Regions from separate parts of the Homo sapiens genome. Here region 2 is linked to region 1. The links come from fine-mapping of genetic effects on gene expression. A gene starts in region 1. The other region holds a variant in brackets. All regions are shown on one strand. Distances are between the middles of the regions.

Region 1 (15,619 bases):
AGACCCTTTCTCACACCAGGTACATGGAAAAAGGCAATCTTTTGGCAAAAAGTAGATCTACCACTAAATACAGTAGGCCAGGTGCGGTGGCTCACGCCTGTAATCCCACCACTCTGGGAGCCAAGGTGGGCAGATGACGAGGTCAGGAGATCGAGACCATCCTGGCCAACATGGTGAAACCCTGTCTCTACTAAAAATACAAAAATTAGTTGGGCGTGGAGGCGCGTGCCTGTAACCCCAGCTACTTGGGAGGCTGAGGCACGAGAATCGCTTGAACATGGGAGGCGGAGGTTGCAGTGAGCCGAGACTGCACCACTGCAATCAACCAGCCTGGTGACAGTGAGACTCTGTCTCAAAATAAATACATACATACATGAATACAGTAAAACATACTAAATTTTTCCTTGTTTTTTGAGATGGAGTCTTGCTCTGTTGCCCAGGCTGGAGTGCAGTGGCATGATCTGAGCTCACTGCAACCTCCGCCTCCCAGGTTCATGCGATTCTCCTGCCTCAGCCTCCTGAGTAGCTGGGACTCCAGGCACCCGTCACCATGCCTGGCTAATTTTTTTTTTTTTTTAAGGCGGGGTTTTGCTCGTCACCCAGGCTGGAGTGTAGTGGCGCGATTTCTGCTCACTGCAATCTCTGCGTCCCGATTCTCCTGCCTCAGCCTCCTGAGTAGCTGGGATTACAAGTGCATGCCACCACACCTGGCTAATTTTTGTATTTTTAGTAGAGACAGGGTTTCACCATATTGGCCAGGCTGGTCTCCAACTCCTGACCTGGTGATCTGCCTGCCTTGGCCTCCAAAAGTGCTGGGATTACAGGTGTGAGCCACCGCGCCCGGGCTTTTTTTTTTTCTTTTTTGAGACAGAGCCTCACTCTGTCACCCAGGCTGGAGTGCAATGGCATGATCTTGGCTCACTGCAACCTCCGCCTCCTGGGTTCAAGCAATTCTCCTGTCTCAGCCTCCTGAGTAGCTGGGACTACAGGCACCCGCCACCATGCCCGGTTAATTTTTGCATTTTTATTAGAGACGGGGTTTCACCAAGTTGACCAGGCTGGTCTCAAACTCCTGACCTCAAATGATTCACCCACCTCGGCCTCCCAAAGTGCTGGAATTACAGGCGTGAGCCACTGTGCCTGGCTAAACATACTAAATTCTTATTTTCCTGCCAAGGCTCTAGGCCCAATCCTGCTCATGCCCTGCTCTCCCTGTTCACGAGGAATGTCAATATTAAAAGCAGTGAAGATACAGGGCACCCCATGCAGACCTCCTCCACTTGTGATGGGAAAGATGGGAACGACAGGAATTGCCCTCTGCAGTAAATGACGTTTATTGCTGACAGGCAAGGGGAAACATCTCGCCCACCATACTGGCAACCACAGGCCTACTGGCTATTAAGTATGTGCGTTCCGTGGTCAGCTGGTCCTGGTTTCTGCTTTCTGGGGACTTCATAGCTGTTAGCCCATGGGCAGTTGATGTCCCCAGTCTGAGTTTTGTTTACTTCCTGTGTAAAGAGTAGTCCCTCTATATTAATACCATGATGATGTTTGTACTCATTACCCATCCCCTAGCACACACTCTCTCCCTTTCAGTCACTTAGCAAGCACTCAATAAGTTCAGCAAATATTTGCTGGGTACCTATTGTGTGCTGCATACTTTTGTAGGGACAAGGTATGCAGTGATTAATAAAATAGAGAATTTCCAGTATTGTGTTGTGATGAAAACAAAACTGATGTGGTGGGGCCAGCATACTGAGAGGCCGAGGTGGGAGGGTCGCTTGAGGCAAGGAGACCAACCTGGGCAACAAAGTGAGACCTCATCTCTACAAAAAAAAAAAAAAAATTAAAAATTAGCCATGAGTGGTGGCATGCTAGTTGGGAGCCTGACCCAGGGGGTTCACTGGAGCCCAGTTCAAGGCTGCAGGGAGCTATGATGGTGCCACTGCACTCCAGCCTGGGTGACAGAGTGAGACCCCATCTCCAAACAAAAAACAACCTAGGCTGGGCCAGGCACAGGGGCTCACACCTGTAATCCCAGCGCTTTGGGAAGCTGAGGTGGGTGGAACACTTCAGATCAAGAGTACGAGACCATCCTGGCCAACATGCTGAAACACTCTCTCTACTAAAAATACAACAACAGCCGGGCGCAGTGGCTCATGCCTGTAATCCCAGCACTTTGGGAAGCCGAGGCGGGCGGATCACGAGGTCAGGAGATCGAGACCATCCTGACTAACCCGGTGAAACCCCGTCTCTACTAAAAATACAAAAAAATTAGCCGGGTGTGGTGGCGGGCGCCTGTAGCCCCAGCTACTTGGGAGGCTGAGGCAGGAGAATGGCGTGAGCCATTCGGGAGGTGGAGCTTGCTGTGAGCCGAGATCGCGCCACTGCACTCCAAAATCCAGCCTGGGCGACAGAGCAAGACTCTGTATCAAAAAAACAAACAAACAAAACAACAACAACAACAACAAAATTAGTTAGACGTGGTGGTGCATGCTTGTAATCCTAGCTACTTGGGAGGCTGAGGCAGGAGAATCACTTGAACCTGGAGGTGGAGGTTGCAGTGAGATGGAGGTGCAGTGGCACTGCACACTCCAGCCTGGGTGACAGAGCAAGACTCCAAAAAAAAAAAAAAAATCCTGATGTGAAGCGGGTGATGGGGTTGGGAACAGTAATGAGTGGTCCAGAAAACCCTTCTGAGAAGGTGCATTTGAGCTGAGCTCATGGTGCTTGGTGTTGGGTTTGTAGACATGGCACAGACCTAGTCTTCATCCCTGACAAACTCTTCCCTGGCCCCAAGCCTGTGTGTGTCCATCCTCTTCTAAAAAAAGCTTGGACTTGCCAGTCTAGAGGTGAGGGTCCCTGGGAGCAACGTGGACCCTCTGGAGAAGGACGCTTAGCCTGTGGATCTCCGAAGCACACTTTGGAGGTGAGAGATGAAAAAAAAGAGGCCGGGCACGGTGGCTCACCTCTGTAATCCCAGCACTTTGGGAGGCTGAGGTGGGCAGATCACTTGAGGTCAGGAGATCGACACCAGCGTGGTGAATATGGTGAAACCCGTCGCTACTAAATATACAAAAATTAGCCAGGCATGGTGGCACGTGCCTGTAGTCTCAGCTACTTGGAGGCTGAAGCAGAATTGCTTGAACCCGGGAGGCGGAGGTTGCAGTAAGCCGAGATCATGCCACTGCACTCCAGCCTGGGCGACAGAGTGAGATTCTGTCTCAAAATTTTAAAAAATTAAAAAAAAAAATTGTGCTTCTCAGTGGCCCTGCTCCTGTGGCTGCAATATGGAGGAAGAGTACAAAGGGTGGGTACAAAGACTGGCCTCTGTCTTGCTGTTGGGAAATCCAGCTGCCACGTTGTGAGCTTGTGTCTGGAATTGGTTCCTTCTGGTGGGTTCTTGGCGTCGCTGACTTCAAGAATGAAGCCATGCACCCTCGCAGTGAGTGTCACAGTTCTTAAAGATGGTGTGCCTGGAGTTTGTTCCTTCAGATGTTCAGATGTATCTGGAATTTCTTCCTTCTGGTGGGTTTGTAGTCTATGCTGAGTTCAGGAGTGAAGCCACAGACCTTCGCGGTGAGTGTTACAGCTCATAAAGATAATGTGGACCTATAGAATGTGCAACAGCAAAATTTATTGCAAAGAGCAAAAGAACAAGGCTTCCACAGCATGGAAGGCGCCCTGAGCCAGTTGCAGCTGCTGGCTAGGGTGGCCTGCTTTTATTTCCTTATTTGGTCCCACCCACATCCTGCTGATTGATCCATTTTACAGATAGCTGATTGGTCCATTTTACAGAGTGCTGATTGGTCTGTTTTACAGAGTCTGATTGGTCCGTTTTTACAGAGAGCTGATTGGTGCGTTTACAAATCTTTACCTAGACACAGAGCGCTGATTGGCGTGCTTACAATCCTTTAGCTAGACACAGAGCGCTGATTGGTGCATTTACAATCCTTTAGCTAGACAGAAAAGTTCTCCAAGTCCCCTACCTGATTAGCTAGACACAGAGCACTGATTGGTGTGTTTACAAACCTTTAGCTAGACACAGAGTGCTGATTGGTGCATTTACAATCCTTTAGGTAGACAGAAAAGTTCTCCAAGTCCTCACCGGCCCAGAGGCCCAGCCATCTTCACCTCTCAAGCTGTCTGTAGAGGTCCACGTGTCAAGAAAACTGAGGACAGAGGCCCTCAGTCCAGTTCCCACAAGCAACTGCATCTCCCCAACAGCTGCCTGAATGAGTTTGGAAGCAGTCCTCCCACCATTCAGCCTTCAGATGAAACTGCACCCCTGGCTGACAGGCTGATTGCAGCCTTATAGCAGACCTTAAGCCTGAGACATTCGACCCACAGAAAAGGTGATAATTTTGGTCTTTTTTTTTCTAAACAGGTTCTTGCTCTAGAGTGCAGTGGCACGATCATGGCTCACTGCGGCCTCTACATCCTGGGTTCAAGTGGTCCTCCCACCTCAACCTCCTGAGTGGCTGGGACTACAGGTTTGTACCACCATGCACAGCTAGTTTTTCTCTTTTTTTCTTCTTTTTGTAGGTACAAGGGTCTCCCTGTGTTACTTAGGCTGGTCTCAAATTCTTAGGCTCTAGCAATCCTCCTGTCTCAGCCTCCCAAAGTGTTGGGATTACAGGCATGAGCCACTGCACTGGGGCAATGTTGGTCTTAGGCTAATTATGCAGCAGGAGATACATGCACTGTGCTTTGGGAATTGAAGTCACTTCTATTTCTTTGTGGCTTCATCAGTAATATGGGGCAGGGGGCACGGTTCCCACAGCTGATTCTTGAGTGTTCTTTCTGAGTATCCTTAATACTTCACACACTATCATATATCTGAACTTTGTTCATTGATTATCTCCCCTTTAATTTTCATTCCTTGATGAATCTCCAGGGTCTGGATTAAGTCCTAGGATACTTTATGTACTCATGAAATCTTCAATGAATGAAGAAATGATTTTTTTTTTTTTTGAGACAGAGTCTCACTCTGTCACCCAGGCTGGAGTGCAGTGGCATGATCTTGGCTCATTGCAACCTCCACCTCCCAGGTTCAAGCAATTCTTCTGCCTCAGCCTCCTGAGTAGCTGGGACTACAGGCATGCGCCACCATGCCTGGCTCATTTTTGTATTTTTCAGTAGTGACAGGGTTTCACCATATTGGCCAGGCTGGTCTTGAACTCCTGACCTCAGGTGATCCACCCACCTCAGCCTCCCAAAGTGCTGGGATTACAGGTGTGAGCCACTGCATCCGGCGGATTTTTTTTTTTTTTTTTTTGAGACAGGGTCTCACTCTCTCGTTCAGGCTGGAGTGCAGTGGCGTGATCTTGGCTCACTGCAGCCTCCACCTCCCAGTTTCAAGTGATTCTGGTTCGGCCTCCCAAGTAGCTGGGACTACAGGTGTGTGCCACCATGCCTGTCTAATTTTTGTATTTTCACCACGTTGGCCAGGCTGGTCTCAAAACTCCTGACCTCAAGTGATCCGCCTGCCTCAGCCTCCCAAAGTGCTGGGATTACAAGAGTGAGCCACCATGTCTGGCCTGAATGAAGAAATAATTTTTTAAAGAGTGTTTTAAAGTGGGGCCGGGTGCGGTGGCTCACACCTGTAATCCCCACACTTTTGGAGGCCAAGGTGGGTGGGTCACTTGAGGTCAGGAGTTTGACACCAGCCTGACCAACATGGTGAAACCCCATCTCTACTAAAAATACAAAATTAGCTGGGCATGGTGGCAGATGCCTGTAATCCCCGCTACTTGGGAGGCTGAGGCAGGAGAATCACTTGAACCCGGGAGGGGGAGGTCACAGTGAGCTAAGATCGTGCCATTGCACTCCAGCTTGGGTGACAAGAGCGAAACAATGTCTCAAAAAAAAAAAAAAAAAAAAAGAAATTGCATTTCAAAGCCAGGTGCAGTGGCTCACACTTATAGTCACAGCTACTTAGGAGGCTGCGGTGGGAGAATAGCTTGAGCCCAGTTGTTCAAGGCTGAGTGAGCTGTGATTGTGGCACTGCACTCTAGTCTGGGTGACAGAGTGAGACCCTGCCTGTAAAAAAAAAAAAATCTTTCAGGCCAGACGCGGTGACTCACTCCTATAATCCCAGCACTTTGGAACGCCGAGGCGGGTGGATCACCTGAGGTGGGGAGTTCGAGACCAGCCTGGCCAACATGGACAAACCCTGTCTCTACTAAAAATACAAAAATAGCCGGGCATGGTGGCACATGCCTGTAATCCCAGCTACTCGGGAGGCTGAGGCAGGAGAATTGCTTGAACTCGGGAGGTGGAGGTTGCAGTGAGCTGAGATTGTACCACTGCAATATGAGACTCCATCTCAAAGAAAAAAAAGAAAAAAAAAAAAAGATAGCATAGCAATGGCTGTGGGCCTGGATACAAGTCTTAGCCTCTCCACTTCTCCACTTCCTGGCTCTGTAAGCCTTAGACAAGTTCCTTAACTCCACACTTCCATTTCCATGTAACAAGGGGTTATAGGCCAGGCATTGGTGGCTCATGCCTGTAATCCCAGTGCTTTGGGAGGCCAAGGCGGGAGGATACTTGGGGACAAGAGTTCAAGACCAGCCCAGGCAGCACAGTAAGACATTGGCTCTAGAAAAATAAAAATAAAAGAAATCATCCAAGAATGGTGACTTGCCTACTATTCTACTCGAGAGGCTGAGAGGGGAGGATTTCTTGAGCCCAGGAGTTTGAGGATGCAGTGAGCTATGATCACATCACTGTACTTCAGCCTGAGCAACAGCAAGATCCTGTCTCAAAAAATTAAATTAGGCTGGGCTTGGTGGCTCATGCCTGTAATCCCAGCACTTTGGAAGGCCATGGTGGGCAGATTGCTTGAGCCCAGGAGTTTGAGACGAGGCTGGGCAACATGACGAAACCCCGGCTCTACCAAAAAATACAAAAAATTAACTGGGCATAATGGTACATGTCTGTGGTCCCAGCTACTCGGTAGGCTGAGGTGGGAGGAATGCTTGAGCCCAGGAAATAGGGGCTACAGTGAACCAGGATCATGCCAGTGCACTCCAACCTGGGCAACAGAGCAAGACTCTACCTCAAAATAATTATTTAAAAAAATGGATTAATTGGGCATAGGTGGCTTGTGCCTGTAGTCCCAGTTACTCAGGAGGCTGAGGTGGGAGGATTGCCTGAGTCTAGGAGGTTGAGGCTGCAGTGAGCCGGGATGGCACCATTGCACTCCACCTGGGCAACAGGGTGAGACCCTGTCTCAAAAAAGAAAAAAAAGGGAGGGGTTATAATCACTCCTCCTGACATGATACAGAGTATCCATTTGAGTTCATAACATAAATATGTACTTGGTGAATGCTCTGTAACTATTGGCTTTTTTATTGTTCCCATTTTACATATAAGGAAGCTGAGGCTTTGTGAGGAGAAATAGCTTAGCCCAGGTCATCCAGTGGGAAGCGTCTGGTGCAGAGGAATAGTGATCATGGTGGGACTTTGCCTAGCCTAAGGTTCAGCATACAATATTCAGTCAGTACTCAAGGGCTGGGCTGTTTCTGGTAATCAAAGGGCTGCCTTGTTCTCCTGCCCCACAGCACAGGAAATTCCAAGGTGGTTTTCTTTACAGGCTCCTCCGCTTCTGTGGCCAGAGGGGACAGCGGAGGAGCCCAGGTACCTAAGCCAACTCAAGAGAAGATGGAATTGAATATTTCAACCACCTTATCTAGGCCTCTGTGATTGTTGAGGAGGGGGCTGTCACTGGGAAAGTTGTGAGCTGCTTTGGACCTTATCTGGGAATTTCCTTGGGCTTACAGCCTTTACCCTATCCTTGAAATGGTTCTGGTTTCATAGCAACTTCTAGGTGGTGTGGGCGAAGTTTGGGACTGGTTTAGGGCGGGGACAAGACCAAGAACACAAGTTTCCTTGTACTACGGGAGAGAGGGAGGGGAGGAAATTGGAGACCCCAGCACCCCCTTGCTCACTCTCTTGCTCACAGTCCACGATGGCCCGGTCCCTGGTGTGCCTTGGTGTCATCATCTTGCTGTCTGCCTTCTCCGGACCTGGTGTCAGGGGTGGTCCTATGCCCAAGCTGGCTGACCGGAAGCTGTGTGCGGACCAGGAGTGCAGCCGTAAGAATGGGGAGGGGAGAATTGGGGGCTTGGGCGTTAGCCTGTGTGGAGGGTGCTGCATTCCCTTCTATTCCTTCCCTAGACCCTATCTCCATGGCTGTGGCCCTTCAGGACTACATGGCCCCCGACTGCCGATTCCTGACCATTCACCGGGGCCAAGTGGTGTATGTCTTCTCCAAGCTGAAGGGCCGTGGGCGGCTCTTCTGGGGAGGCAGCGTGAGTCTTGGGAGAGTGAAAGAGGGAAGGGTACAGAGCTGGGGTAGACTCATTATCCCCATGAAGGGAAGATTTGAGGGGGGTGAACTGAAATAGACATTGTGGGGGGATATTGTTACTTACTTTATTTTATTTGCTTATTATTTTTTAATTTTTTCCGAGACAGAGTCTTGCTCTGTCACCCAGGCTGGAGTGCAATGGCACGATCTCGGCTCACTGTAACCTCCACCTCTTGGGTTTAAGCGATTCTCCTGCCTCAGCCTCCCAAGTACCTGGGATTACAGGCATGCACCACCACACCTGGCTAATTTTTGTATTTTTAGTAGAGACAGGGTTTTACCATATTGGCCAGGCTGGTCTTGAACTCCTGACCTCATGATCTGCCCGCCTTGGCCTCCCGGAGTGCTGGGATTACAGGTGTGAGCCACTGCCCCCCAGCCTATTTTCACTTTATTTACCAATTTTAGGACCTGATATGGTCCCACGTTCTGTTCTAGACACCAAGATACAACAACAAATGATCCTTTTTATTCTAATGGAGGGAAATGAACAAAAAGCAAGGCATAAAAAATAGCAGCAGCCGGGCACAGTAGCTCACACCTGTAATCCCAAGTAAGGCCAAGTTGGGAGGATAGCTTGAGCCCAGGAGTTCGAGACCAGCCTGGGCAACATAGCAAGACCCCCATCTCTATAAAAAAAAATTTAAAATTAACTGGGCTTCATGGCATGTGTCTGTGGTCCCGGCTACTCGGGAGGCTGAGGTGGGAGGATTGCTTGATCCCAGAAGTTGAGGCTGCAGTGAGCCGTGATCATGCTACTGCACCTCAACCTGGGCGACACAATGAGACCCTGTTTCCAAAATAATAATAATAATAAAAGCAAATATGCGCTGCTGTGAGAATTAACAGAGACTTACTTGGGTGTTCAGAAAGGGCCTCTGAACAGGTGGCATTTAAGCTGAGATTCATATGACAAGGATGGAGCAGTTATGTGGAGATCAGGGAGAAGGGAGAATGCAAAGGCCTTCAGCAGGCACAAGCTTGCCATCTTCCCAGACCCTAGCTTTTAACTCCTCTTCCCCAGGTTCAGGGAGATTACTATGGAGATCTGGCTGCTCGCCTGGGCTATTTCCCCAGTAGCATTGTCCGAGAGGACCAGACCCTGAAACCTGGCAAAGTCGATGTGAAGACAGACGTGAGTGTCATGGGGGCTGGCAAGAAATGTGGGGGGAGGACCCTTAGGTTGTGGGGATGGGCAAAAATGCTCCCACACTTGGCTCCCTGGCAGCCTAGGTATGTGCGCTGGGAGAAATTCTTTCCCTGCCTCAATTTTCTCACCAGTAAAATGGGTCCAGTTGGGAGGTGCAAAGATTAGAGGGCTCTAGGCTAATTTGCATAGCACTTGTGTGGCCAGACCTGGGCCCTGCAGCTGCAGCCTTTGCTAAAACCACTAGATCCTTTGTGGTGTGACCGCTGGTTTTCTTTCCACTGTTTCCCCTTTCTCTTTTTCAGAAATGGGATTTCTACTGCCAGTGAGCTCAGCCTACCGCTGGCCCTGCCGTTTCCCCTCCTTGGCTTTATGCAAATACAATCAGCCCAGTGCAAACGGCTCGTCTCCGTGGTCTTTGGGGTGGGGTAGGGTAGGGTGGGGACTGTACAAATGAAATGTTTCTCTAGGTTGCTGAATCTAACCAATTAACCCGCTGCCTGTGGTAACGTCAGTGGTTGCTAGGCAGAGTTTCACTGATGAAAGCCCTGTGCAGTAGGAGCGCTCCTAAGCTTAGGTTTCGGACACAAGCAAAGGAAAACCTAAGCAGCCCAACTAGGGGATTGTAGTGTCCTCTCTAGACCAGTGGGAGGGAGCCAATCGGACTACGCGGAGGATATAAATCGCACAGTAAAGGTTTTCTTGGAAGATTATCTGGAAAGGGAGGTGGGAAGTAACCTGCGCCTATCTGCCCAGTTTTCCTCCTTTTCGCCTTTGAGAACAGTAATCGCTCCCGCCAGCTCAAGATCAGCTCCTCTTCCAGCCTCTTTCTGTCAATCCTGCCCGTGCCCCCTTCTTTGCATTTGTATCCCCTCCCCCAAGTCCGCTCCGATCCAATCCGGAGACTCGACTCTGCCCCCCGTACTCCAGACTAAATCCGTTCCTCGGCTCAGCTAAGCAGCTCTGCACGTCCCTTCCCACTTGCTCAGCCAATCGCTGGGCTCGGCCCCGCCCCTTTGGGCTTGGTCCTTCTCACGCCACCAATCCGCGCCTCTTGTCCCGCCCCCTGCCCGCGAGTCCGCCAATCCCGCCCTTCGGAAAGCGTCGCCTGGTATCCAGCTGCCGGAGCGGGTCGCGCCGGAGGGGGGCGGAGGCGGAAGTGGCGGTGCCGGGCCCGGGGAGTAGGAAGGAGCCGGGGCTGTAGCCGGAGTGGAGCGGCTGCCAGCCGAGGAGCAGGCGCGGCCGCGGCGCCATATTGCGGCCCTCAGCGGCCGCGACCGAGTCATGGCTGAGACCTACGGTGAGGGTGGTGGACGAAGCTGGGGTCCTGGGTCTGGGCCCAGGGAGGATGCGGCCTGTGGGAATGGGCGGGGCTTTGTAGATCAGGGGGCGGGGTCTGGTGTGATGGAGGCAGGACCTAAGTGGATGCTGGGAGGGGTTTAGTGGGTCTGAGGCTGAGCTTAATCGATTTAGGTGGAGCCTGAGGGTCTGGTGCGTGGGTTAAATAGATCTGGGGCGGGATTTGAGGGAGCTGGTCCTGAGGGGTTCAGGGAGGCCCTGAGGGAAGAGGTGGGCCTTAATGGATCTGGGCGGAGCCTGAGTGAAGGGGCGGGGCTGACTGCATGAATGGCAGGAGTCGGGCTTATGGGCTAGAGGGAACACTGAATGGAAGCTCGGGACCCTGGGGCTGATCTGGCTGGAGAGAGCTCTGGAATGGGTTTGGGGATGGGCTGTCCTTGAGTTAGGGGCAGGACTTAGTGGCAAAGGGTGGGACTTATGCATGAGAATGGAGCCGGGTTCTGGGCAGAGGGAGGGAAGGAGAGGTCGGGAAGTGGAAAATCAGTAGGGATGCACCATAGGAGGTGGTGATTGGAGGCAGGGGAAGTGCAGGTTTAGGAGTCAGAGGGAGCCGCATTCACTCAACAAATATAGAAGAGAAGGGAGAAGAGTGCAAAGACCCTGAGGTGAGAACCAGCTTGTCATTTTCAGGGAATAGACTGAAGGTCAGGAGCTATAGTGGAGTGAATGAGTCAGAGGGTGGTAGGAGGTGAAGAGGAACAAGGGCTATATCGTAGTCCTTGTTTAAATAGCTTTCAAGAGACTTTAGCGACAAAATAGCTAAGATCTGGGACTCTGGAGCCCTTGGCCTAGGTTTGAATCTCACTTCTGCCCAGCTGTGTCACTTTGGGCAAGTCAGTTAACCTTTCTGGCCTGTTACCTCATCCGGAAAATGGGAATAATTTTTAGTCTACCTCCCTCATAGAGTTTTCCTGAGGATGATGTGAGCTGTTGATGTGAGTAAAGACCTTTAGAACTGTTCCTGGCCCACAACAACACACAATTGACCCATGTAACAAACCTGCACATGTGGGCTGGGCGCGGTGGCTCATGCCTGTAATCCCAGCACTTTGGGAGGCTGAGGCAGGCGGATCACCTGAGGTCGGGAGTTTGAGACCAGCCTGACCAACATGGAGAAACCCCGTCTCTACTAAAAATACAGAATTAGCTGAGTGTGGTGGCGCATGCCTGTAATCCCAGCTACTCGGGAGGCTGAGGCAGGAGAATTGCTTGAACCTGGGAGGTGGAGGTTGCGGTGAGCCGAGATCGCGCCATTGCACTCCAGCCTGGGCAACGAAAAGTGAAACTCTGTCTCAAAAAAACAAAAACAACGACAAAAAAACCCCTGCACATGTACTCCCTGAATCTAAAATAAAAGTTGAAAAAAAATATATAGAATGTGCCTGGCACATGGCAAGTACTACATAAGAGTTATCTGTTACTGTTACCTATTGGTTTGTTTCTGCCTATGTCTGTTTCTCTCCCTCTAACTGTGATGGTTAGAGAGAGAGATTGGATTGGAATCCATCTTTTTTCCCTGTATCTTTCTCTCCCTGTGGGTATCCCTGATTTTGGCTCCATCTGGTCAGACTTCCTCTTCAAATTCCTGGTGATTGGCAGTGCAGGAACTGGCAAATCATGTCTCCTTCATCAGTTCATTGAGAATAAGTGTGAGTTTCCCGCAGTGGTCCTGGGAACCCTGAGCTGTGTTTATGCGCATGGTGTGGGCTGGTGGGCAGCCGGTGGGGAGGGCAGGGCTGGCCATAGGTACAAGTCCAGTGCTGGCTTTTTGGTCCTTGCTTTGTCGTATGTCCTTTACTAGGTTCTCCTTGACCTCAAGTCACTCCAGCAAGGAGAATGGGTTTGTAGAGACTGAGAGGGCCTTGGAGGATGGGGGATCCTCTGAGCTGTCTCCTCTCTCCCTGTACTGCCCCTTCTGTTCCTCCTACTCCCAGTCAAACAGGACTCCAACCACACAATCGGCGTGGAGTTTGGATCCCGGGTGGTCAACGTGGGTGGGAAGACTGTGAAGCTACAGATTTGGGACACGGCTGGCCAGGAGCGGTTTCGGTAGGTGGGCTGGGCTCCCAAGGGTGATGGGGAGAGAGAGTGAGAAGGAAAGAGAGAGATGTGTGTGTAGAGTCACTTGGAGACACTGAGAGGGCAGACAAGGCAGACAGAGAGAGATGAGACACCGTAGTTAGCAGGTATATATATCCAAGGAGAGAGGGAGTACTGGAGAGATAAAGAGATGGTGGAAGAAAAAGAGGTAGGGGCCAGGCGCAATGGCTCATGCCGGTAATCCCCGTGCTTTGGGAGGCCATGGTGGGAAGATTGCCTGAGCCCAGGAGTTTGAGACCAGCCTGGGCAACATAGTGAGACCCCATCTCAAAGAAAGAAAAAGAGATAGAGAAAAGTGGCTTGGGGGTGGGGAAAGGGATGGAGACTGAGAGACACCGAAACAGAAAGAGAAGGGGAAACTTGAGAGACTCACACTCAGAAAGGAAAAGAGCAAGAGAGACAGAGACTAAGAGAGTTGAAGAGAATGATAAGGGAGGTAAGGAGGCCTGGCACGGTGGCTTACACCTATAATCCCAGCACTGTGGGAGGCTGAGGCAGGTGGATCACTTGAAGTCAGGAGTTCAAGACCAGCCTGCCAATATGGTGAAACCGTGTCTCTACTAAAAAAAAAAAAAAAAAAAAAAAATCAAAAAATGTAGCCAGGCTGTGGTGGTGGATGCTAGCTACTTGGGAGGCTGAGGCAGGAGAATTGCTTGAACCTGGGAGGCAGAAGTTGTAGTGAGTCAAGATCGCACCACTGCACCCCAGCCGGGGTGACAGAGCGAGACTCTGTCTCTGAATAAATAAATAAATAAATAAATGAATAAATAAATAAATAAATAAATAAATAAATAAGGGAGGTGAGGAGACACAGAGAAACAGAGGTCAGAGGCAGAGAGGGAGACAGGGTGAGTCAGACAGGTGTAGTTGGACGTTGAATGAATGAATGCACGAATTTACGGGAAGGCAAGGGTGAGCATGAGAGCCACAGAGATGGAACAGAAAGAGAGACAGTGAGAAATAGGGAACTGAAGACACACACGCCAAGGCAGGAGAACCGCTTGAGTCCAGGAGTTTGAGACCAGCCTGGGCAACATTGTGAAATCCCATCTTTCCAAAAGAGAGATGGAGAAATGGACGTGTTGTGGGAGAGAGAGAGAGAGAAATGCGTAGGGCTCAACACACTGTAGGTCTTCAGGAAATGCCTGCAGAGCAGAAAAGTTGATAGACACATAGAAACCTTAGGAGAGGCCGGGCGTGGTGGCTCATGCCTGTAATTCCAGCATTTTGGGAGGCCGAGGCGGGCGGATCACGAGGTCAGGAGATCGAGACCATCCTGGCTAACATGGTGAAACCCCGTCTCTACTAAAAATACAAAAAATTAGCTGGGTGTGGTGGCAGACGCTGGAAGTCCCAGCTACTTGGGAGGCTGAGGCAGGAGAATGGCATGAACCCAGAAGGCGGAGCTTGCAGTGAGCCCAGATCGCGCCACTGCACTCCAGCCTGGGCGACAGAGCTAGGCTCCGTTTCAAAAAAAAAAAAAAAAAAACCTTAGGAGAGTCGGAGAAACAGAGAGCAGGGAGAGAAATAGAGGGAATTCAGTCCACGGAAAAGTGTGATCTATGGCAGCATCTAGTAGCTGCTGAGTTAATTCTTGCGTATGGATTAACTGCCTGAGGTGCACAGAGCCCAAAGGCAGAGAGAGGGGCTGAAGGATAGACAGGTGTGTAGCATGGGCTAGGTTTACGGTGAGTGCTTAGTAAATGCTGTGGAATGATTGCATGAGTTCCAGAAGGACCCAGACTGGTGAGACAGAGAATGCAGAATTGGCTACACTGGGAAGGAGACTCCACCTGACACAGCAGGAGAAGGATAAGCAGATGTTGTATAGTGCTTGGGCAGGGCCAGGCAAAGGGGAGATTTGCTCAGAAAATGTTGAATGAATGAATGCACAAATGCATGGGAAGGCAAAGGTAAGCATGAGAGAGCCACAGAGATGAAACAAACAAACAAAAAAGACAGAAATAGGGAATTAAATAGGGCCAGGCACGGTGGCTCACGCCTGTAATCCCAGCACTTTGGGAGGCCTAGGCGGGCAGATCACTTGAGGTCAGGAGTTCAATACCACACTGGCCAACATGGCGAAACCCCATCTCTACTAAAAATACAAAAATTAGCCGGGCGTGGTGGTGCATGCCTGTAATCCCAGCTACTTGGGAGGCTGAGGCAGGAGAATCACTTGCATCCGGGGGGCAAAGGTTGCAGTGAGCCAAGATCACGCCACTGCACTTCAGCCTGGGCGACAGAGCAAAACTCCATCTCAATCAGTCAATCAATCAATCAATCAATCAATAAAAGACATGTAGGGCCGGGCACAGTGGCTCACGCCTGTAATCCCAACACTTTGGGAGGCCAAGGTGGGCGGATCACTTGAGCTCAGGGGTTCGAGATCAGACTGGCCAACATGGCCAACCCCATCTCTACTAAAAATACAAAAATTAGCCTGATGTGGTGGCGTGCATCTGTAATCCTGGCTACTCGAGAGGCTGAGGTGGGAGAATCACTTGAACCCGGGAGGTGGAGGTTGCAGTGGTTGCAGTGAGCCGAGATCATGCCACTGCACCCCAGCCTGGGAGACAAGAGTGAGATTCCTACTCAAAAAAAAAAAAAAAAAAAAAAAAAGAAAAAGGAAAAAGACA
Region 2 (11,884 bases), 410 kb after region 1:
CACTGCTCGCAGAGTGCATAAAGTTTTTAAGCCTGCAAAAGAATGTTTTCCCAGGCCAGGCACGGTGGCTGACACCTGTAATCCTAGCACTTTGGGAGGCCGAAGCAGGCAGATCACTTGAGGTAATAGAGTTCAAGACCAGCCTGGCCAACATGGTGAAACCCTGTCTCTACTAAAAATACAAAAATTAGCCAGGCTTGGTGGTGGGTGCCTGTAGTCCTAGCTACTCAGGAGGCTGAAGCAGGAGAATCGTTTGAACCTGGGAGGCAGAGGTTGCAGTGAGCCGAGATCTTGCCACTGCACTTCAGTCTGGACAACAGAGTGGAACTCCATCTCAAAAAAAAAAAAAAATCCACTTGTTCTCTGGGTGCAGTGGCTAATGCTTGTAATCCCAGCACTTTGGGAGGCCTAGGTGGGCAGATCACATGGCCAGGTATTCGAGACCAACCTGACCAATATGGTGAAACCCCATCTCTACTAAAAATACAAAAATTAGCCAGGCGTGGTGGGCACCTATAATCTCAGCTACTCGGGAGGCTGAGACAAGAGAATCACTTAAACCTGGGAGGCGGAGATTGCAGTGAGCCGAGATCATGCCTTTGCATTCCAGCCTGGGCAACAAAGCAAGACTCCATCTCAAAAAAATAAAAATAAAAATAAAGAACGTTTTCCCAAATAATTGTGTGTGGTTGCACAAATATGCAGGAAAACAATCAGAACGTACCTGGAAATATTAATTATAAGATAGTGCCTCCCGCTGGGCTCAGTGGCTCATGCCTGTAATCCCAGCACTTTGGGAGGCTGAGGTGGGCAGATCACAAGGTCAAGAGTTCAAGACCAGCCTGGCCAGCATAGTGAAACCCCATCTCTACTAAAAATACAAAAATTAGCCAGGCATGGCGGCATGTGCCTGTAATCCCAGCTACTCTGGAGGCTGAGGCAGGAGAATTGCTTGAACCTGGGAGGCGGAGGTTGCAATGAGCCAAGATCACGCCACTGCACTCCAGCCTGGGCGACAGAGCGAGACTCCGTCTAAAAAAAAAAAGACAGTGCTTCCCCTGTAGGAGGGAGAGAAGGATGTGACGTTTCAGAAGGGATACAGGGAACCCCAAACCCGGTCATGAGTATTTTATTTCTCTAAATAAATAATGGTAAAAATGTTAAGATATTGTAAAGATAGGTGTGTATGTATAATCGTGGTAATTCCTCTAATCCTTTCTCCATGTCTGTATTTGAAATAATTATTTTCAAGGCCAGGCGCGGTGGCCCACGCCTGTAATCCCAGCACTTTGGGAGGCTGAGGCGGGTGGATCACTTGAGGCCAGGAGTTTGAGACCAGCCTGGCCAACATGGTGAAACCCTGTCTCTACTAAAAATACAAAAATTAGCTGGGCATGGTGGTGTGTGCCTGTAGTCCCAGCTACTGGGAAGGCTGAGGCAGGAGAATCACTTGAACCCCGGAGGCAGAGGTTGCAGTGAGCTGAGATCATGCCACCGCACTCCAGCCTGGGCGACAGAACAAGACTCCATTTCAAGAAAAAGGAATAATTATTTTTGGCTGGGTGCAGTAGCTCACGCCTGTAATCCCAGCACTTTGGGAGGCCGAAGTGGGCGGAACACCTGAGGTCAGGAGTTTGAGACCAACCTGGCCAACATGGTGAAACCCTGTCCCTACTAAAAATATAAAATTGCTTGAACCTGGGAGGCAGAGGTTGCAGTGAACTGAGACCACTCCACTGCACTCCAGCCTGGGTGACAGAGCGAGACTCTGTCTCAAAAAACAGTAATTATTATTATTTTTAAAATAACATATATTTTGGAGGCTGGGCACAGTGGCTCACGCCTGTAATCCCAACATTTTGAGGGGCCAAGGAGGGAAGATGGCTTGAGCCAGAAGTTCAAGACAACCCTGGGCAATATAGTGAGACCTCATCTCTACAAAACATTTAAAAGTTGGCCAAGTATGGTGGCATGCACCCGTAGTCCCAGCTATCTACAAGGCTGAGATGGGAGGGTCACATGACCCGGGAAGGTGGAGGGTGTAATGACCCCACCAAAACACTGTACTCCAGCCTGGGCAACGGTTCGAAATCCTGTCTCAAAAACGTATACTTGGTTGAGCACGGTGGCTCACGCCTGTAATCCCAGCACTTTGGGAGGCCGAGGCGGGCGGATCACGAGGTCAGGAGATCAAGACCATCCTGGCTAACACGGTGAAACCCCGTCTCTATTAAAAATACAAAAAAATTAGCCAGGTGTGGTGGCGGGCGCCTGTAGTCCCAGCTACTCAGAAGGCTGAGGCAGGAGAATGGCGTGAACCCGGGAGGTGGAGCTTGCAGTGAGCCGAGATCGCGCCACTGCACTCCAGCCTGGGCGACAGAGCGAGACTCCGTCTCAAAAAATATATATATACTTTTGAAATACCTTTTTTTTTTTTTAATAAGGGGACTGGAGGGGGTGGAACCAGGTGATAGTTGGATACAGAGGGAGATGAAGGAAAGGAAGCAAAAGCTGTCCCCCAGGAGACCCGAAATTTTATTTTTCTCAACTTATGGTTGCCTTCCTGATATGAATTTGTAGGAGCAGTGCCTTATTTTTTTCTTCTTGCACCCTCACCCAGCTACGAAGAGTAGTACTTAGAAAAGAACTTTTAGGCCTGGTGCAGTGGCTTACGCCTGTAATCCCAGCACTTTGGGAGGCCAAGGTGGGTGGATCACTTGAGGCCAGGAGTTCGAGACTAGCCTGGCCAACATGGTGAAACCCCAATTCTATTAAGAATAAAAAAAATGGGGCCGGTCTCCAGCTCCTAACCGCGAGTGATCCGCCAGCCTTGGCCTCCCGAGGTGCCGGGATTGCAGACGGAGTCTGGTTCACTCAGCGCTCAATGGTGCCCAGGCTGGAGTGCAGTGGCGTGATCTCAGCTCGCTACAACCTCCATCTCCCAGCCGCCTGCCTTGGCCTCCCAAAGTGCCGAGATTGCAGCCTCTGCCCGGCCACCACCCCGTCTGGGAAGTGAGGAGCGTCTCTGCCTGGCCGCCCATCGTCTGGGACGTGAGGAGCCCCTCTGCCTGGCTGCCCAGTCTGGAAAGTGAGGAGCGTCTCTGACCGGCCGCCATCCCATCTAGGAAGTGAGGAGCGCCTCTTCCCGGCAGCCATCCCATCTGGGAAGTGAGGAGCGTCTCTGCCCGGCCGCCCATCGTCTGAGATGTGGGGAGCGCCTCTGCCCCGCCGCCCCGTCTGGGAGGTGAGGAGCGTCTCTGCCCGGCCGCCCCGTCTGAGAAGTGAGGAGACCCTCCGCCCAGCATCCGCCCCATCTGAGAAGTGAGGAGCCCCTCCGCCCGGCAGCCGCCCCGTCTGAGAAGTGAGGAGTCCCTCTGCCCGGCAGCCACCCAGTCTGGGAAGTGAGGAGCGTCTCCGCCCGGCAGCCGCCCCGGCCGGGAGGGAGGTGGGGGGGTCAGCCCCCCGCCCGGCCAGCCGCCCCGTCCGGGAGGGAGGTGGGGGGGTCAGCCCCCCGTCCGGGAGGGAGGTGGGGGCGGTCAGCCCCCCGCCCGGCCAGCCGCCCCATCCGGGAGGGAGGTGGGGGGGTCAGCCCCCCGCCCGGCCAGCCGCCCCGTCCGGGAGGGAGGTGGGGGGTCAGCCCCCCTCCCGGCCAGCCGCCCCGTCCGGGAGGTGAGGGGCGCCTCTGCCCAGCCGCCCCTACTGGGAAGTGAGGAGCCCCTCTGCCTGGCCAGCCACCCCGTCCAGGAGGGAGGTGGGGGAGTCAGCCCCCCACCCGGCCAGCCGCCCCGTCCGGGAGGGAGGTGGGGGGGTCAGCCCCCTGCCCGGCCAGCCGCCCTGTCCAGGAGGGAGGTGGGGGGGTCAGCCCCCCGCCCGGCCAGCCGCCCCGTCTGGGAGGGAGGTGGGGTCAGCCCCCCGCCCGGCCAGCCGCCCCGTCCGGGAGGTGAGGGGCACCTCTGCCCAGCCGCCCCTACTGGGAAGTGAGGAGCCCCTCTGCCTGGCCAGCCACCCCGTCCAGGAGGGAGGTGGGGGAGTCAGCCCCCCACCCGGCCAGCCGCCCCGTCCGGGAGGGAGGTGGGGGGCTCAGCCCCCCGCCCGGCCAGCCGACCCGTCCGGGAGGGAGGTGGGGGGATCAGCACCCCGCCCGGCCAGCCGCCCCGTCCGGGAGGGAGGTGGGGGGGACAGCCCCCGCCCGGCCAGCCAGCCCGTCCGGGAGGGAGGTGGGGGGGTCAGCCCCCCGCCCGGCCAGCCGCCCCGTCCGGGAGGGAGGTGGGGGGGTCAGCCCCCCGCCCGGCCAGACGCCCCGTCCGGGAGGTGAGGGGCGCCTCTGCCCGGCCGCCCCTACTAGGAAGTGAGGAGCCCCTCTCCCAGCCACCACCTCGTCTGGGAGGTGTACCCAACAGCTCATTGAGAACGGGCCGGGATGACAATGGCGGTTTTGTGGAATAGAAAGGGGGGAAAGGTGGGGAAAAGATTGAGAAATCGGATGGTTGCCGGGTCTGTGTAGAAAGAAGTAGACATGGGAGACTTTTCATTTTGTTCTGTACTAAGATAAATTCTTCTGCCTTGGGATCCTGTTGATCGGTGACCTTACCCCCAACCCTGTGCTCTCTGAAACATGTGCTGTGTCCACTCAGGGTTAAATGGATTAAGGGCGGTGCAAGATGTGCTTTGTTAAACAGATGCTTGAAGGCAGCATGCTCGTTAAGAGTCATCACCACTCCTTAATCTCAAGTACCCAGGGACACAAACACTGCGGAAGGCCGCAGGGTCCTCTGCCTAGGAAAACCAGAGACCTTTGTTCACTTGTTTATCTGCCAACCTTCCCTCCACTATTGTCCTATGACCCTGCCAAATCCCCCTCTGCGAGAAACACCCAAGAATGATCAATAAAAAAAAAT[TAAA/T]AAAAAAAAAAAAAAAAAAAAGAATAAAAAAAATTAGTTGGGCATGGTGGCAGGCGTCTGTAATCGCAGCTACTCAGGAAGCTGAGGCAGGAGAATTGCTTGAACTTGGGAGGCAGAGGTTGCAGTGAGCTGAGATCGTGCCACTGCACTCCAGCCTGGGCAACAGAGGGAGACTCCGTTAAAAAAAAAAAAACAAAAACGAAGAAGTCAAGGCAAAAGTAGAGAGTTTATTTATTTGAGCCAAGCTTGAGGGTTGCAAATCAGAAGTATAGATTCAAATTGCCCTGAATATGCACTCTGATTTAGCAGTACTTGCAAGTTGGATTTATTTTATTTTATTTTATTTTATTTTTTGGTCTGAGACAGGGTCTCACCGTGTCACCCAGGCTGGAGGGTAGCAACAAGATCATAGCTCACCACAGTCTTGAACTCCTGGGATTAAATGATCCTCTTGCCTCAGCCTACCAGTGGATTTTTTTTCTTTTTTGAGACGGAGTCTCACTCTCTTGCCTGGGCTGGAGTGCAATGGCGCGATCTCAGCTGATGCACCTCTGCCTCCCAGTTTCAAGCAATCCTCCTGCCTCAGCCTCCCAAGTAGCTGGGATTGCAGACGTGCACCACCATCCCTGGCTAGTTTTTGAATTTTTATTTTAATCTTTTTTTTTTTTTTTAGTTTTTCTTAGTTTTTGTATTTTTAGTAGAGGCGTGGTTTCTCCATGTCTGCCAGGCTGGTCTCGAACTTCTGACCTCAGGTGATCTGCCCACCATGGCCTCCCACAGTGCTGGGATTACAGGCATGAGCCACTGTGCCCAGCGAACAAGTGGATTTTTAAAGGTAAAAAAAGGGGGACAGGGAGTGGGACTGACACAAGTGGATCGCTTGAGCCCAAGAGTTTAAGACCAGACTGGGCAACATGGCGAAACCTCATCTCTACAAAAAAAAGTACAAAAATTAGGCAGGCATGGTGGTGCATGCCTGTGATTCCACCTACTCAGGAGGCTGAGGTGGGAGAATCACCTGGGCCTGGGAGGTCGAGGCTGCAGTGAGCCATGAACCTGCCACTGCACTCCAGTCTGGGCTATGGGGTGAGACCCTGTCTCAAAAAAACTCAATAACCACCCCCGCTAAAAAAAAAAAAAAAAAAAAATGCTTGTCAGGAATTCTTATTGGTTTACAAAAATAACATAACTCTCAGGAGTTTGAGACCAGCCTGGCCAATAAGGTGCGCGCCACCACGCCCAGCTAATTTTTGTATGTTTAGTGGAGATGGGTTTTCTCCATGTTGGCCAGGCAGGTCTCAAACTCCTGACCTCAGGTGATCTGCCCGCCCCGGCCTCCCAAAGTGCTGGGATTACAGGCATGAGCCACTGCACCCACCCCTTGACTTCTTTCTTTTAGGTCCACAGTACATAGAACATGTCAGGAAAAGAAAGGATGGGGTGAGGTGATGGGGTGAGGATGTAGGATAATGGGACAGGATGAGCAGTGGGATGAGGGGATGGAATGAAGGACTGGATAAGGGATAGGTGGGGGTAAATGAGAGCATGGGGGAGGCAGTGCTCTCCTGATGGTGGGGTGCACGAGTGGATGGATGACAGGATAAATAGGGAAGGGAGGAGGGATAGGATGACGAGACGGCTGTAGAAGCCCAGAGCAGAGAACATTGCTGCTTTGGGGTCGATGATGTAATCACCTCAACTCACTGACACTATTCCCAGCCACGGATGATGCTCACAGAATCTGGGGAAGTCCAAGGCCTGGAAGCAGGACTCATCTTGGACTTCCCCTTCTATCTAGTTCCAGGTGCTGAATGAGGCACCTCTGAAGAAGAGAAAGGAGAGAGACTAAGATAAACAAGACTGAGAGGAAAAAATCAGAGTGGGCAGGCAGAGTGAGCCTGGTAAAGTGGACCACAGAGCAGACAGGCTGTGGCTTAGCCTTGGACAGCAGGTGGGGTTCCAGAGCCATATGCTTGGAGGAGCCTTAGCAAACTAAATCCCCCAGCAGTTTCTTAAACCCATCCATCACACAGCTTGCCAGAACCCTGGGGTTGGCAGCTTCCAGAATGGTTAGGAAAATCCACAGTAGTGGTCAGGCGCGGTGGCTCATGCCTGTAATCCCAGCACTTAGGGAAGCCAAGGCAGGCGGATCACTAGGTCAGGAGATCGAAACCATACTGGTTAACACGGTGAAACCCCGTCTCTACTAAAAATACAAAAAATTAGCTGGGCATGGTGGCATGCGCCTGTAATCCCAGCTACTCGGGAGGCTGGGGCAGGAGAATCACTTGAACCCGGGAGGCAGATATTGCAGTGAGCCGAGATCGCGCCATTGCACTCCACCTGGGCAACAGAGCGAGACTCCGTCTCAAAAAAAAAAAAAGAAAGAAAGAAAAAGAAAATCCACAGTAGGGGGCCAGACACAAAAATGATCACTCCAGCACTGTCCAGCCCAGATCAGAGGGTTTCTGATGGGAAGTAGCTGGGGTCAGGGCAAGGAGTGGTGGAAAAAGTCAGGCTGTTTTCAGCTGAACTATACAAATGGGCATCTCCTGGCCCAGGGTGGGGATTTGGCATTGCAGAAAGGCCAGAATCCACCTGGAATCACTCAGTTACTGTGAAATCTATCTTGGGAACCTAAGAATGTTTGCTTTCTAGACTTGAGAATTTTGGACACTTGATTGCTTTCTGGATGAATTTTAGAGATTTATAAATTGTATTGAAAGTGTTTATTCGACAAGATGTTTATTGAGCATCCACAGTGTGTTAGGCACTGGGGATACAGCAACACACAAAACAGACAGAGAATCGGCCCTTATGGAGAGACCATTTCAGTGGGAAAAGGGAGTATAAAAAAGCAAATCAAGGTCGGGAGCAGTGGCTCCCACCAGTAATCCCAGAACTTTGGGAGGCCGAGGCAGGTGGATCGCTTGAGCCCTGGGCAACATAGCTAAACCCTGTCTCTACAAAAAATTAGCCAGGCATGGAGCGCGTACCTGTAGTCCCAGCTACTCAGGAGGTCGAGGCAGGAGGATCGCTGACATCTGTGAGGCAGAGGCTTCAGTGAGCAGAGATCACACTACTGCACTCCAGCTTAGGCAACAGAGCAAAACTCTGTCTTTAAAAAAAAAAAAAAGTAGGCCGGGCAGGGCCGGGCCCAGTGGCTCATGCCTGTAATACCAGAACTTTGGGAGGCCAAGGTGGGTGGATCACTTGAGTGAGGTCAGAAGTTCAAGACCAGCCTGGCCAACATGGTGAAACCCTGTCTCTACTAAAAATACAAAAATTAGCTAGGCATGGTGTCACATGCCTGTAGTCCCAGCTACTCAGGAAGCTGAGGCAGGAGTATCACTTGAATCCAGGAGGCAGAGGTTGCAGTGAACGGAGATCACACCACTGCACTCCAGCCTGGGCAACAAGTGTGAGACTCCATCTCAAAAAAGAAAGTGAATCAATATATAAAATATAAAAAGACAAAAAATAATACACGTTGGCAATGATGTGGAGGAAAGGAAACATACCCTGTTGGTGAGAATGTAAATTAGTCCAGCCACTATGAGAAACAGTATGGAAATTTCTCAAAAAACTATCATAAGGGCTGGGTGCGGTGGCTCACGCCTGTAATCCCAGCACTTTGGGAGGCCGAGGTGGGTGGATCACAAGGTCAGGAGATCCAGACCATCCTGGCTAACACGGTGAAACCCCGTCTCTACTAAAAATACAAAAAAAAAAAAAAATTAGCTGGCCATGGCGGCGGGCACCTGTAGTCCCAGCTACTCAGAAGGCTGAGGCAGGAGAATGGCGTGAACCCAGGAGGCGAAGCTTGCAGTGAGCCGAGATGGCACCACTGCACTCCAGCATGGGCGACAGAGCAAGACTCCATCTCAAAAAACAAACAAAAAACAATCATATGATCCAGCAATCCCACTACTGGGAATTTATGGAAAGGAAAAGAAATCAGTGTATCAAAGGGATAGCTACACAGCAATGTTTATTACAGCACTATTCACAATAGCAAAGATATGGAATCAACCTAAATGTCCATCAACAGATGAATGGATAAAGAATATGTGGTACATCTACACAATGGAAAACTATTTGGCCGTTAGAAAAAGAATAAAATCCTGTCATTTGCAGCAACATGTGAAACTGTCTGTCCCTACAGGGTTGACAAGAACTGCAAGCCAGGTTCTAGATAGAAATATAATTAAGCATTGGCTGGGCACAGTGGCTCACACCTGTAATCCCAGCACTTTGCGAGGCCGAGGTGGGCAGATCACTTGAGGGCAGGTGTTCGAGACCAGCCTGGCCAACATGGTGAAACCCTGTCTCTACTAAAAATACAAAAAGTAGCTGGGTGTGATGGCAGGTGCCTGTAATCTCAGCTACTTGGGAGGCCTAGGCAGAATTGCTTGAACCCGGGAGGCAGAGGTTGCAGTGAGCCGAGATCATGCCATTGCACTCCCAGCTTGGGTGACAGAGTGAGACTCAAAAAAAAAAAAAAAAAAGAAAAAGAAAGAAAGAAAGAAAATTAAGCATTAATCATGCTGCACTTTGGTCCACTTCCTTGTTGCTGAAAGCCACATAGCTCTAGATGCTGACCATTTGTATCCCCATTGTTCTTATAGACAGCATCGCTGACCTTAGAATCATGATGTTTTTGTTAAGGATCACGTCAGATGTTTTTTGGACCCCCAATTCCAGCCACCAGTTTGAAGACCCCTACAGAGGATGGGGATTGTCAGGCCTCTGAGCCCAAGCTAAGCCATCACATCCCCTGTGACCTGCACGTATACATCTAGATGGCCTGAAGTAACTGAAGAATCACAAAAGAAGTGAAAATGGCCTGTTCCTGCCTTAACTGATGACATTACCTTGTGAAATTCCTTCTCCTGGCTCATCCTGGCTCAAAAGCTCCCCGGCTGAACACCTTGTGACCCCCACCCCTGCCAGCCAGAGAACAACCCCCTTTGACTGTAATTTTCCACTACCTACCCAAATCCTATAAAACGGCCCCACCCCTATCTCCCTTCACTGACTCTTTTTGGACTCAGCCCGCCTGCACCCAGGTGAAATAAACAGCCTTGTTGCTCACACAAAGCCTGTTTGGTGGTCTCTTCACACGGACGCGAGTGAAAGGGATCAGCATGAGACTATAACTTCTTCTTCCACCCTCTGTCCCGTGACTTCACTCTGCACTCTTCAACCAATCAACGATCTCCACCCTTCAGCCCACTCCAAAACCCTTGAACACCCTAGCCCCAAACTCTTAGGGGAGATGGATGTGAGGTTTCCCCCCATCTCCTCATTCAGTGACCCTACAATTAAACCTGCTTCTCTGCTGCAAACCAGTTATAACTGTAGTAGGCTCATTGCCCAGTGCACACAGCAAATCAACAGGAGACACTGGGTTGCAGGAGAGAAGAGGTTTCATCGTAGGGTCGCCAAAAGAGATGAGGAGTTGAAGAATGTAGGGTGAAGTCACGGGACAGGGAGATGAAGAAGCCACATTCTCATGCTGATCCCATTCCCCAGTGGGTAGCCTTCACACTGGTTGCTGGAATTCAAGGTCTGAAAAGCATCTTTTTACATTTTTGTTTATGTATTTATTATTATTATTATTATTATTATTATTATTATTATTATTATTGAGATGGAGTCTCACTCTGTCTCCCAGGTTGGAGTATAGTGGTACAATCTCGGCTCACTGCAACCTCTGCCTCCTGGGTTCAAGCAATTCTCCTGTCTCAGCCTCCTGAGTAGCTGGGATTACAGGTGTGAACCACCTCCCCCCACCACCTCCACTCCGCTAATGTCCTTTGTATTTTTAGTAGAGATAGGGTTTCACCATGTTGACTGGGTTGATCTTGAAGTCCTGACCTCAAGTGACCTACCCACCTCAGCCTCCCAAAGTGTTGGGATTATGGGTGTGAGCCACCGTGCCTGGCCCTGAAAAGCATCTTAAGTGATTCTTTCTTTAACAAAAGCCTTATGACTCTAATATCAGAGATTCTGTCTATAGGAACAATGGGGGTGCACATGGTCAGTATCTAGCTCTACCTGAGTTTTAGCAACAAGGAAATGGACCAAAGTGCAGCCCGAATAACACTTAATTATAAGTATGTTTCTGTCCAGAACCCAGCATGCAATTCTTGTCAGCCCTGTGGGAATGGTTTCACAGTGTCTCGATATACTGACTTGCTGTGTGCATTGGGCAACAAACCTATTACAATTACACATGGATGTAACTGGAGGTCATTACATTAATTGAAATAAGCCAGGCACAGAAAGATAAACAATGCATGTTCTTACTCCCAAGTGGAAGCTAAAAAAGTTGATCACATGGAGGTAGAGAATGGAATGATGGATACTAGAGACTGGGAAAGGCGTATGGGTGGGGTGGGGTGGGGAGAGAGGTTGGTTAATACACCTAGACAGAAGGAATAAGTTCCCTTTTTTTTTGAGACGGAGTCTCACTCTGTTGCCCAGGCTGGAAGGCAGTGGCACAATCTCAGCTCACTGCAACCTCTGCCTCTTGGGTTCAAGCAATCCTCCTGCCTCAGCCTCCAGAGTAGCTGCGATTACAGGCACGTGCCACCATAACCGGCTAATTTTTTTTTTTTTTTCAGACGGAGTCTCACTCTGTCACCCAGGCTGGAGTGCAGTGGCACAATCTCAGCTCACTGCAAGCTCCACCTCCCAGGTTCACGCCATTCTCCTGCCTCAGCCTGCCGAGTAGCTGGGACTATAGACGCCTGACACCACGCCCGGCTAATTTTTTGTATTTTTAGTAGAGATGGGGTTTCACCGCGTTAGCCAGGATGGTCTTGATCTCCTGACCTCGTGATCTGCCCGTCTCGGCCTCCCAAAGTGCTGGGATTACAGGCGTGAGCCACCACGCCCGGCAAGAACTTTTAAGTTTTCTTATCTATAGGATGTTGCAATCATCATCTTTAAACATTAGACATGGAATCTTTATAATA

Which allele goes with the higher level. Alleles are on the strand shown, and positions count from the first base shown. SD is a standard deviation of normalised expression in the study named.
With allele TAAA in place of T in region 2, the expression in lymphoblastoid cells of the gene that starts at base 7,951 in region 1 is lower (large effect, 1.4 SD a copy in TwinsUK).

Evidence for each region. PIP is the estimated chance that this variant, and not a neighbour inherited with it, causes the effect.
Region 2: its variant is fine-mapped to the expression of MIA in lymphoblastoid cells (TwinsUK, PIP 0.95).

The regions. Positions count from the first base shown.
Region 1 is chr19:40,767,571-40,783,189 of GRCh38, forward strand. MIA (MIA SH3 domain containing) reads left to right here and starts at 7,951. Exons shown (of 4, transcript NM_006533.4): 1 at 7,951-8,099; 2 at 8,182-8,315; 3 at 9,399-9,509; 4 at 9,827-9,920. The coding sequence starts at 7,973. The coding sequence ends at 9,850. It overlaps RAB4B (RAB4B, member RAS oncogene family), which reads left to right and starts at 10,677. Exons shown (of 8, transcript NM_016154.5): 1 at 10,677-10,821; 2 at 12,449-12,529; 3 at 12,815-12,929. The coding sequence starts at 10,806. It overlaps MIA-RAB4B (MIA-RAB4B readthrough (NMD candidate)), which reads left to right and starts at 7,967. Exons shown (of 10, transcript NR_037775.1): 1 at 7,967-8,099; 2 at 8,182-8,315; 3 at 9,399-9,509; 4 at 12,449-12,529; 5 at 12,815-12,929. It overlaps RAB4B-EGLN2 (RAB4B-EGLN2 readthrough (NMD candidate)), which reads left to right and starts at 10,649. Exons shown (of 12, transcript NR_037791.1): 1 at 10,649-10,821; 2 at 12,449-12,529; 3 at 12,815-12,929. RefSeq lists silencers at 9,811-9,940, 10,491-10,730 and enhancers at 10,791-10,860, 11,748-12,279.
Region 2 is chr19:41,176,934-41,188,817 of GRCh38, forward strand. The region is part of intron 1 of LOC124904790; the gene reads right to left. Among named protein-coding and RNA genes, the nearest start is that of CYP2S1, 10 kb to the right of the region's middle. RefSeq lists an enhancer at 4,313-5,102. The variant TAAA/T (reference allele first, on the strand shown) is at 4,899.